2 linked regions of the Homo sapiens genome follow. The protein of the gene in region 1 interacts with the protein of each later gene in a pairwise test. Each region holds a gene or a part of one and is shown on either strand. Other genes may lie near its edges.

Evidence for each region. The genes of interacting proteins can lie anywhere in the genome.
Region 2: the proteins of ZFC3H1 (region 1) and FMR1 interact in a two-hybrid assay, tested with the Homo sapiens proteins (one large-scale study listed by IntAct).

What each region holds. Positions count from the first base shown.
Region 1 is NC_000012.12:71,653,414-71,658,281, forward strand, and holds part of ZFC3H1 (zinc finger C3H1 domain-containing protein), read right to left. Parts: intron 3,889-4,868; coding exon 3,472-3,888; intron 1-3,471. UniProt on the Homo sapiens protein: Subunit of the trimeric poly(A) tail exosome targeting (PAXT) complex, a complex that directs a subset of long and polyadenylated poly(A) RNAs for exosomal degradation. The RNA exosome is fundamental for the degradation of RNA in eukaryotic nuclei.
Region 2 is NC_000023.11:147,938,430-147,943,297, reverse strand, and holds part of FMR1 (fragile X messenger ribonucleoprotein 1), read right to left. Parts: intron 2,723-4,868; coding exon 2,636-2,722; intron 168-2,635; coding exon 1-167.

The DNA of each region.
Region 1 (4,868 bases):
ACATAACATACATCTATACAGAGTTCCAAAAAAGAGAGAGAATGGGATAATATTCTAAGAGATAATGATCATTTTTTCAGAACCACTGCAAGATCCAATCCAGATTCAAGAAACAACAAATTCCAAGCTGGATACATAAAAAGAAATCTACAATCAGCACATCACACAGTTCAACTACAGAATATCAAAGACAAAAAGGATCTTTAAAACAACCAAAGAAAAAAGATTATCTTCAAATTGGAAACCATTAAGACTGATAGATGAGTTTTGAAAATCAACAATGGAAGCCAGAAAATATTGTCAGTAAGAATATAATTAGGGGCTGGGTGTGGTGGCTCATGCCTGTAATCCCAGCACTTTGGGAGGCCAAGGCAGGCGGATCACTTCAGGCCAGGAGTTTGAGACCAGACTGGCCAACATGGCGAAACCCCAGCTCCACTAAATACAAAAATTAGCCGGGCGCAATGGCATGTACCATAGTCCCAGCTACTCAGGAAGCTGAGGCATGAGAATCACTTGAACCCAGGAGGCGGAGGTTGCAATGAGCCAAGATAGTGCCACTGCACTCCAGCCTGGATGACAGGGAAAGACTTTGTCTCAAAAACAAACAAACAAAAAGCATATAATTAAACAACCTAGAATTCTAAACCCAGGGAAAATATCTTTTAAAAAGAGTAAACGGAAATCGTTTTCCACCCAGCAAAAACACATTTTTAAAAAAAAAGTCTAAAGAATGTATTTAAGCACAGAGCATGGTGGCTCACACCTGTAATCCCAGCATTTTAGGAGGCTAAGGCAAGAGGATCATTTGAGCCCAGGAGTTTGAGACCAGCCTAGACAACATACTGAGACCCCGTCTCTACAGAAATTTTTAAAACATAGCCGGGCATGGTAGTACATGCCTGTGGTCCCAGCAACTCAGAAGGCTGAGGTGGGAGGATCACCTGAGCCCAGGAGGTCAAGGCTGCACTGAGTCATGATCATACTCCTGCACTCTAGCCTGGGCAACACAGTGAGATCTTATCTAAAACACACACACACAGAGAATATATTTATACATATATAATTCCAGACATGATACAAAGAGTGAGCCAAGAAAGTGCTAAATATATAGGCAAAGCTAAGCAAATATCATTCTTTGTATTTCGGGGAAAGAGTAAGGTTCCTGATTAACTTTAAACACTGGTAGGAATATAAGACCAGAAATTTAGTATCCAACTTCCAAACTAGCAAATGAAAAAAAATTGTGTGAAGAAAAATAAGAGCCTAAAAAGAAAAAAAAGAAGAAGAAATAAAACCAAATGTCAATAATCATAAAAAATGTGAGTAGACTATACGTTCAAGCTAAAGGACAAAGATTGTCATACTGAATTATAAATTAAAACCAGCTCTATACTATGTACAAGTAATATCCGAGACATGAGGATACAGAAAGACTGAAAGAGTGGGAAATTATATAAAGAGAAAGATGATGTGGCTATTAATATAAGACAAAATAGTCTTTTAGGCAAAAACATCAGAGATAAAGTCACTACATAATGACTCAATTACCCACCTTCAAAGTATTTAAAGCAAAAAGTAAAAATCACAAATCCATCATCATACTGGCAAATTTTAACAAACTCCTCTTAGTAACTGATCAAGCATATCAAAAAATAAAAAAAGTGAACAACACAAAAAGCTCAAGTAATCTATAAATTCATTTCAAACATACACAGAACTCTTACAAAAAACTGATTACATACTGGACAATAAAGGAAGTCTCCAAGTATTTCAAAAGATTGGTTATCATAGCAATCTTATTTTCTGACAGTATGATTGACTTAGATATCAATAAAAAATACTGCTAGACAACCTACATGTTTAGAAGAAACATACTTCCAAGCAGCCTACAAGTCAATGAAAAATAAAAATTAGAAAATATTCAGAATGAATGAAAAAAGTTAAATAACCCAACTTGAGACAGAACTAAAGTCAAACTTTATGGCCTAAAATGATCTTAATAGGAGAGAGGCTGAAAACTGAGTTTAAAAACTTATGTACTTATTTCAGGGTAAATTAAAGAAGAGAGCAGGGAAAAAAAAGGTACAACTTATAAATACTACAGATAAAAAAGTAAAGGATTCTTAAGAACAATTTTTATAACTTCTGTAACTTACAGGAAATAGACACATTACAAAAAATATAGAGTTTACATAAACTGTCTTAACAGAAATAGAAAACACGAAGTTAGATTAAAACTTTCTCAGAAAAAAACTCCACCCAGGCCCAGACACTTTTATCAGCAAGATCTACCAAGTATCTCAGAATGTTTCCAATCTTAAACTATTACAGAGAATAAAGATGAAAACAGCCCCAACTAATTTGAGTATTATAACCTTACACTAAAAACTGTCAAGGAAAAAGAGGGGGGGGAAATTACAGGCTCTGAACACATAAAAAATTCTAAACAAAACACTAGCAAACCTTCATTTGTAATAGCCGAAAGTTGGAAAAACCCAAACATAATTGGGAAATGGATGAACTACAGTATGATGGGATACACAGAACTACTGACATATACAATTACATGAATGAATTTCAAACACATTATGCTCAATGAAAGAAGCTATAATGAAAGGCAATATACTGTATGATTCCATTAGTGTGACATTCTGGAAAAGGCAAAACTATAGGGACAGATCAGTGGTTACCAGGTGAACTAAGGGCTGAGGGACGGGATAACTACAAAGACACTTGGAGAAACTGTTTGAGGTTGATGAAAGAATTCTGTATCTTAATGGTAGCTGGTGATGGTTACCCACTGTCTACATTTGTCAAAACCTGAAGAACTACACACTTATTCATTTATAATGTTAAAAGATAAATTTTACTGTATATAAATTATATCTTAATAAAGAGGAAAAGAAAAAACAAGCCAAATCCATGATTTAAAAATGGTATATCATAAACTGTATTAAACGCAAGCATACAAGGGTGGTTTAATACTAGAAATAAATTATATAATTCATTACACTAACAAATTAAAATAAATTAGATGCTCATCCCAATAATGAAGAAAACAGATTTTGTAAACTTCAACATCCATTCACGCTGAAAATTTCAAACCAGGAATAGGAGTAAAACCCTCCTTTACCCGATAAGGGATACCTACAAAAAAATTAACATCATATTTAATGGTAAATGTCAAAACCATTTTCTTTAAATTAGGAAACAAAGGTGTCCACTATTATCACTTATGTATAACATTCTATTATAGAGGCCAGAATGTCAGGCAAAAAATAAATAAATAAATAAAGACTAAAAGTAAACAAAATTAGTAATTATTCAATGATATGAATGTCTACATAGAAAGTACAAAAGAATTTACAGATAATTACAATCATTTCAATGAAGTACACTGCCAAAACAAGTAGTTACTACTTTAGAGGAAGAAGAGTCATTACTAACTGAAATATTTAATTCCATTACCTTGACTAGAATCAGTAGTGTCGGATTTCAGGGAAAGTGGTTTTGCTCCATCTTTAACTTTTTTCAAACGGTTCTTATCTCCTGGTAAAGTCAATTTTTGCCTGAGTGGTTTTAATTCAAATGCCTGAAAAGTTTTGACTTGTGTTTTCTCCTCAGGAGCTACTTCTTTACTTGAATCCTTTGTAATACTGACATTATCAGTGCTAGTTTGGTCCTCGAAGTTCAATGTTTTAGGATCTTCCTGCACATTCTCTTCTTTGCTACTCAATGCTAGTTTTTCATCCTTATTGATGCATTCTAGTTCCAACTGTATTTGTTTATACTTTAAAAGCAAATCTTCAAAAGTTTCTTCCACACAGTTTTCATTTTTTGATGAATAATTTTGTTTTCTTGATGGAGACCTTCCAAAACTTTTGGCTGAACAGCATATTAAGGAAACCAGTTTCCAAAAATTTTCCACAGTTAAATTTAACAAAAAAACTTAGATTATAGATGAATTTTCTCCCTTTTTAATTTTTCAAGAAAAATGAATCGATATTTTTAAATTACTAAATTCCATTTAATGTATGTGCAGCTAATGCCCACTTTCATTACGTGCCCATATTTGAATTTAGTAAGTACCATATAAACAGTCCACTTACAAAATCACTAGTGTCATAATTACCAGTAGTATCCACAGACAGTCCACCTAGTTAGGTTATAGCATCATTCCTTCTGTGCCAGGAAAGTCCATAATTAGCTGTATGTTAGAGATTATTTTCTGAAGGAAGAGGGGAGAAACTGAATGCTTTGTCACAGATGCGGATAGTTTACACTTCAGGGGGCCAGGCGCGGTGGCTCACGCCTGTAATCCCAGCACTTTGGGAGGCCGAGGCAGGAGGATCACTTGAGGTCAGGAGTTTGAGACCAGCCTGGCCAACACAGTGAAACCCCATCTCTACTAAAAATTAAAAAATTAGCCAGGCGTGGTGGTGCAGGCCTGTAGTCCCAGGTACTTGAGACGCTGAGGCAAGAGAATTGCTTGAACTCAGGAGGCGGAGGTTGCAGGGAGCCAAGATCACACCACTGCACTCCAGCCTGGGCAACAGAGGGAGACCTCATCTCAAAAAAAAGAAAAAAAAAAACACTTTAAAATAGTACTCAAAATATATCTATTTTTCTCCTACAGACAAGGGAAAATGTTATGAAAATAATCTGAAGCAACTGTTCTTACTTTCTTCTCTAACACAGTGATACACAAAAGGTAACTTTTTCCTTAGAAACAGCTACAAAATTTCAAACTACAATTTTTATTCTAAACAATTCATACACGAGAATTGTTATACCTCATTTTTCCAGGCCAGATATTAGCAAGAGAAAAGACAGTACCTCCTGTGGTTTTAATACATCATTTATAG
Region 2 (4,868 bases), on another chromosome or scaffold:
TGCCCCCTATTTCTGTAAGGTCTACTACCTCGACCCATTCCTTGACCATCATCAGTCACATAGCTTTTTTCCTTATCTGTACGATTTGGTGGTGGTCTAGAACTAGCTCCAATCTGTCGCAACTGCTCATCAATTTGTAATCTCTCCAAACGCAACTGGTCTACTTCCTATTTAAAATATACAAGATAACAGTAAAAATAATTTGACATTTTACTTAATAAAACCTTTCTCCTTTTCATCAGATAAAAATATACTGGAATATTTCAATTTCAGTTCTAAATTTACAGTAAACACTGTTACACAGAATTATCAGGAAATTGAATGATCTCCTTAAAAAGAAAATTACTACAGATAACAGATTATTGATGTCAAGAATTAGAGATATAACAAAAACACTCAGCAGTAAAATTATACTGAATAAAATTTAAAGTTGTCTAATTTGGCACTATTATCCAATTATTCTACTGCTAAGGCACAGATATGCTATTTTGGGGACTTCTTCATGATAGGATATTAAATAAAACATGCTAAAATGTATGAATATAGATAAATGACATTCAAGGTATAACCAGCTAACCTTAAAAATCACACATTGTAAATAATCTTGATTAAAATAGATTTGCCAGTTAATATCTTAATTTACAAAGCATTGAGTTTGGGCCATCTTTTGTTTTAAAAGAACATATACTATGGTTAAGGAACAATGATTTTTTCATCAACTGAAAATGCTGACTATTCCTCATGAGGGGAAAACAAAACTATTTAATAGCTGACCAGACAGCTAGGTCTTACATCATGCCTTGAAAACTTCCTAAAGACTACAACTCTGCTACAACAAGTACGAGAAACAGTATACATTTAGTTGATAGAAATATACACCTGGGGTCCAATGACAGACCCTTACAAAAAGCACTTCCAGTATGTTGGGTTCTGTTAAAACCAGATGAAACCTCATTTCTAACCACTGTCCTTCCAATCCACTCATAAACATCTCATTTACTGGCTACGGGGAATCAGATTCATAACTATAGTAGTAGTAGGCGTCTCAGTGAAGCAGAGGTTATCATAGAGACTGTCTACATGAACAGTCATTGGAGAAGCTCCTGTAAAGCTAAGTTTCTAAAATCTTGGTTGTGGCAGCTTCTGGAAAAGAAAGGTCAGGTAAGGATTTGGTCCGTTTCATCTGTGCTCTGCCATCATTAGCAATTTACATAGTTACACCAGAATCTGTTTTACATAGAATTTGAGCAAAGGAGAGACTGCAGCTGAGTGAGTGACTTCCTCCAAAGGTATAGTAATAGCTCATGGAATAGGAATATCTTGCAAAACAGAAGAGTAGTCCAGGTTATCCCACTGGGGCAAAGCAGTCACCTTTTGGTGAGAGATGCCAGGCCCAAACGAGGGAAGTTCTGGTGATGGAAAGAATGGCAACAGGGCAGCTGCTGATAACCAAAGAAGATATTCTTGAGAATAAATCAAAGGATCTAAGAAAGAACATTAGTCAAAAGAACAAGGGATTTGATACAATGCAATCCTAACTCTCCAGGCCTTCATGATGATTTAAGCTAATTACGAGAGAGACACACACACAGAGAGATTACACATAAACATACTTAAAAAAAAATCAAAGAGGTATCCTACCCATGTAAACCTTGCTGGATGAAACCTTTCCACTTTTAATTAACTGGCCACCATAAGAATGAATGGCATGCCCAGTATTACACTTTTTCTTCCTTTCATTCTTATTTACACACAAGCAGAAATCATGTACTTTTTATTTCTTTCAAGAAATCAGCAAAAAAATTCTTAATGCCATAAATAGAGTTGAAATGCTTTTTAAAAACATTTAATACCAGCTACATTATAATTTTGATATGTATGGATACAAATAAAACATTATGAAAATGAAGTAGATCAGTTTCCATTTCATTAAAGTATAGAACATTTTGGCCAAAAGGAATTTCAAGAAGCATCTAGTGTAGGGAAGTGACTTGCCTAAAGTCACACAGCTAGTTCATTTGCTGAAGTCTTATAAGTAAATTGCTGCATTGCCCATCCAGTGCTTGCTCCACTACACCTTGTAGCCTCCTCGTTCCTATCTTCCAGTTTGAAATTTTAAGGAGGCATAACCGCATCACACTAACTAAACTGAACATTTATGAGAAGACACAAATAGTTTGTATTTTGAATAACAGTAAAGAGAAAAATAGGGTAAACATTTAAACAAAGAACTTCATGAAATGCTTAGATTTCCTTGATAAATGACATAAAAGGAACAATAAAGGCAAGAGTTATAGACACAGATTTTTGTCTGGAAAAAACCAAAATGCTAGAAAGGATCAAATGGATTAACAGGCTATGTACAGGATTGCCTAAACTGAGTGTAAGGGTTTAAGAGAAGAATAAAGGGAAGTATAAAATTTTATTGAAAACTGGTATATTGGTACTTAAATTTATAAAGACTTCCATTTTTAAAAAAATTATAAGCCAAACAACGTATTTTCTCTATTACCTTTGACAAGTCATACAGTGTTTTGCACAGGCTAGAATGAGTCCTAACTGCTGAAAGATCTACTATAAAGTTTGTATATTTTAGTACAAAAGGATTAGAAGTTAAAGTTCTTTCTGTTCTCACCTTTAAATAGTTCAGGTGATAATCCAAAAGAACAGTGGCATTAGCGATGCTGTCCTTTGTTCCCACAAAAACAAATGGTACCATACCCTGAAAAAGAAATTGCAACAATGATCCTATAAAAGTAATGATAGATTAATCTGAAAAATGCAAATAACGACTAATTCCCTAGCACAGGATCTGGTGAACAGCAGGTATACAAATGTTTGCTGTAAATATAAATCAATATATGAAAACAAAAGTAGTTGATATACTACTTTACACATCTACTGTGAATACGAATAGATCAATAGCAACCTTTTAAACGTATCAGATTATTATAAAGACTAGTATTCAGTATCAGCAAAATCACAAAATGTATAATTCAAAATTATACAAGCTTTACCATGAGATGTATAAACAAAATGAGTAGTATAAGATGCTCTAATTCATTTATGAAAGGCTTTATCCTGATCAAAATTTTTTCTTTTTTTTTTTTCTTTTTTGTTTTTTTTTTTTTTTTTTTGAGACGGAGTCTCGCTCTGTCGCCCAGGCTGGAGTGCAGTGGCGGGATCTCGGCTCACTGCAAGCTCCACCTCCCGGGTTCACGCCATTCTCCTGCCTCAGCCTCCCAAGTAGCTGGGACTACAGGCACCCGCCACTACGCCCGGCTAATGTTTTGTTTTTTTAGTAGAGACAGGGTTTCACTGTTTTAGCTGGGATGGTCTCGATCTCCTGACCTCGTGATCCGCCCGCCTCCGCCTCTTTTTTTTTTTTTTTTTTTGAGACAGGGTCTTTTTATTCTGTTATCCAGGCTGGAGTGCAGTGGCATGATAATGGCTCGCTGTAGCCTCGACCTCCCCAGGCCCTAGGTGTTCCTCCCACCTCAGCCTCCTGGATAGCTGGGACAACACGTGCATGCCATCATACCCAGCTAAATTTTTGTACTTTCTGTAGAGACGGGGTTTCGCCACATTGCCCAGGCTGGTCTCGAATTCCTGGGCTCAGGCGATCTGCCTGCCTTGGCCTCCCAAAGTGTCGGGACTACAGGCATGAGCCATCGCGCCTGGCCGATCAAATTCTTAAAAAAAAAATCAAAATGAAATACCAAGGGTACAAAAGTAAAAAGTAAATCATTTCTGCTAACCAAGTAAATAGAGTACACACAAAATACAAACAAAAACATCAGGATAAAAATGCACTGAATAATCTGTGAGACAAAAAAATAGGTACATTGACAAGCATTAAGTTTTATCAAGCCCATACACATTTCAATAATGTACTCTGAAAATTTTAAAAGGCTGAATCACAAGGAAAGTTTGAACTTCTCTCTATGGACACTACTTAACATAAGAACAGATTTTTAAAAGGCATATGCTAAATGTCTGTACTCCTAGCCCATATATATATATATTAAGAGGGAAAAAAAAAACAACTACTTCTTGTCACAAGTTATAGGGAAACCTAGAAACAATTGTGCAAATTAATAACTGGCAATTCATTTCTGCATGTTGGGTTTTTCTCCAACAAGCTTTATTTGTTACAAAAGCCTTTAACTGTATTATTTCCCAAAATACCATGTGATGGAATGAATGCTACACCCTTCCCTCTGGGTCAAATATCACCAAAATAGCTTTAAAATCCTATGTAACAGATTTAGTTAGATTGACTTCGGAGCAAATTATTTACGAATATCTTTTCTTGCAACATGTCTAAACTGCTGGAGTACCCCAAGGGCCACTCTAATTTAAGCACTTCACGAGTAGACCTGAATAGTAAATTAAAATGAAGAAAGGCAAGAATGGAATGATGGCCTTTAGTACGGACCCCAGAAAAAAGTTACTCTGTGTTCTGGAATAATGGGCTGCCCGGCAATGAGACATATCCAATCCACTTGCCGTTATAGTCCTCTTTGTAAAATGGCACCTTTGCTTTTAATCCATGAGTCCACAACATTTTTTTCCATAAACAGTTCTCACCAGCTCTCCCTGCCCTCAAAGAACTTACAATGTGGTTGAGGAGATCAACAAATAAACATCTATGTTTAAGTGCTATGCTAGGGGTGAGCACATTGCAAAACAGAAGGGGAAGGCTCTTGAACCAGTCAAGGGGGTGGGGATCTTCGGCAAGTACACAAGGAAAGCTTTGTAAGGAATAAGGTCAAAATGAGGTGACATGTGGAGGAGAAAAAGCATTCCAGGCAGAGTAAACCTGTACATATGTCTAGAAGCAAAATAAGCACGAGAATGTTCAGAGA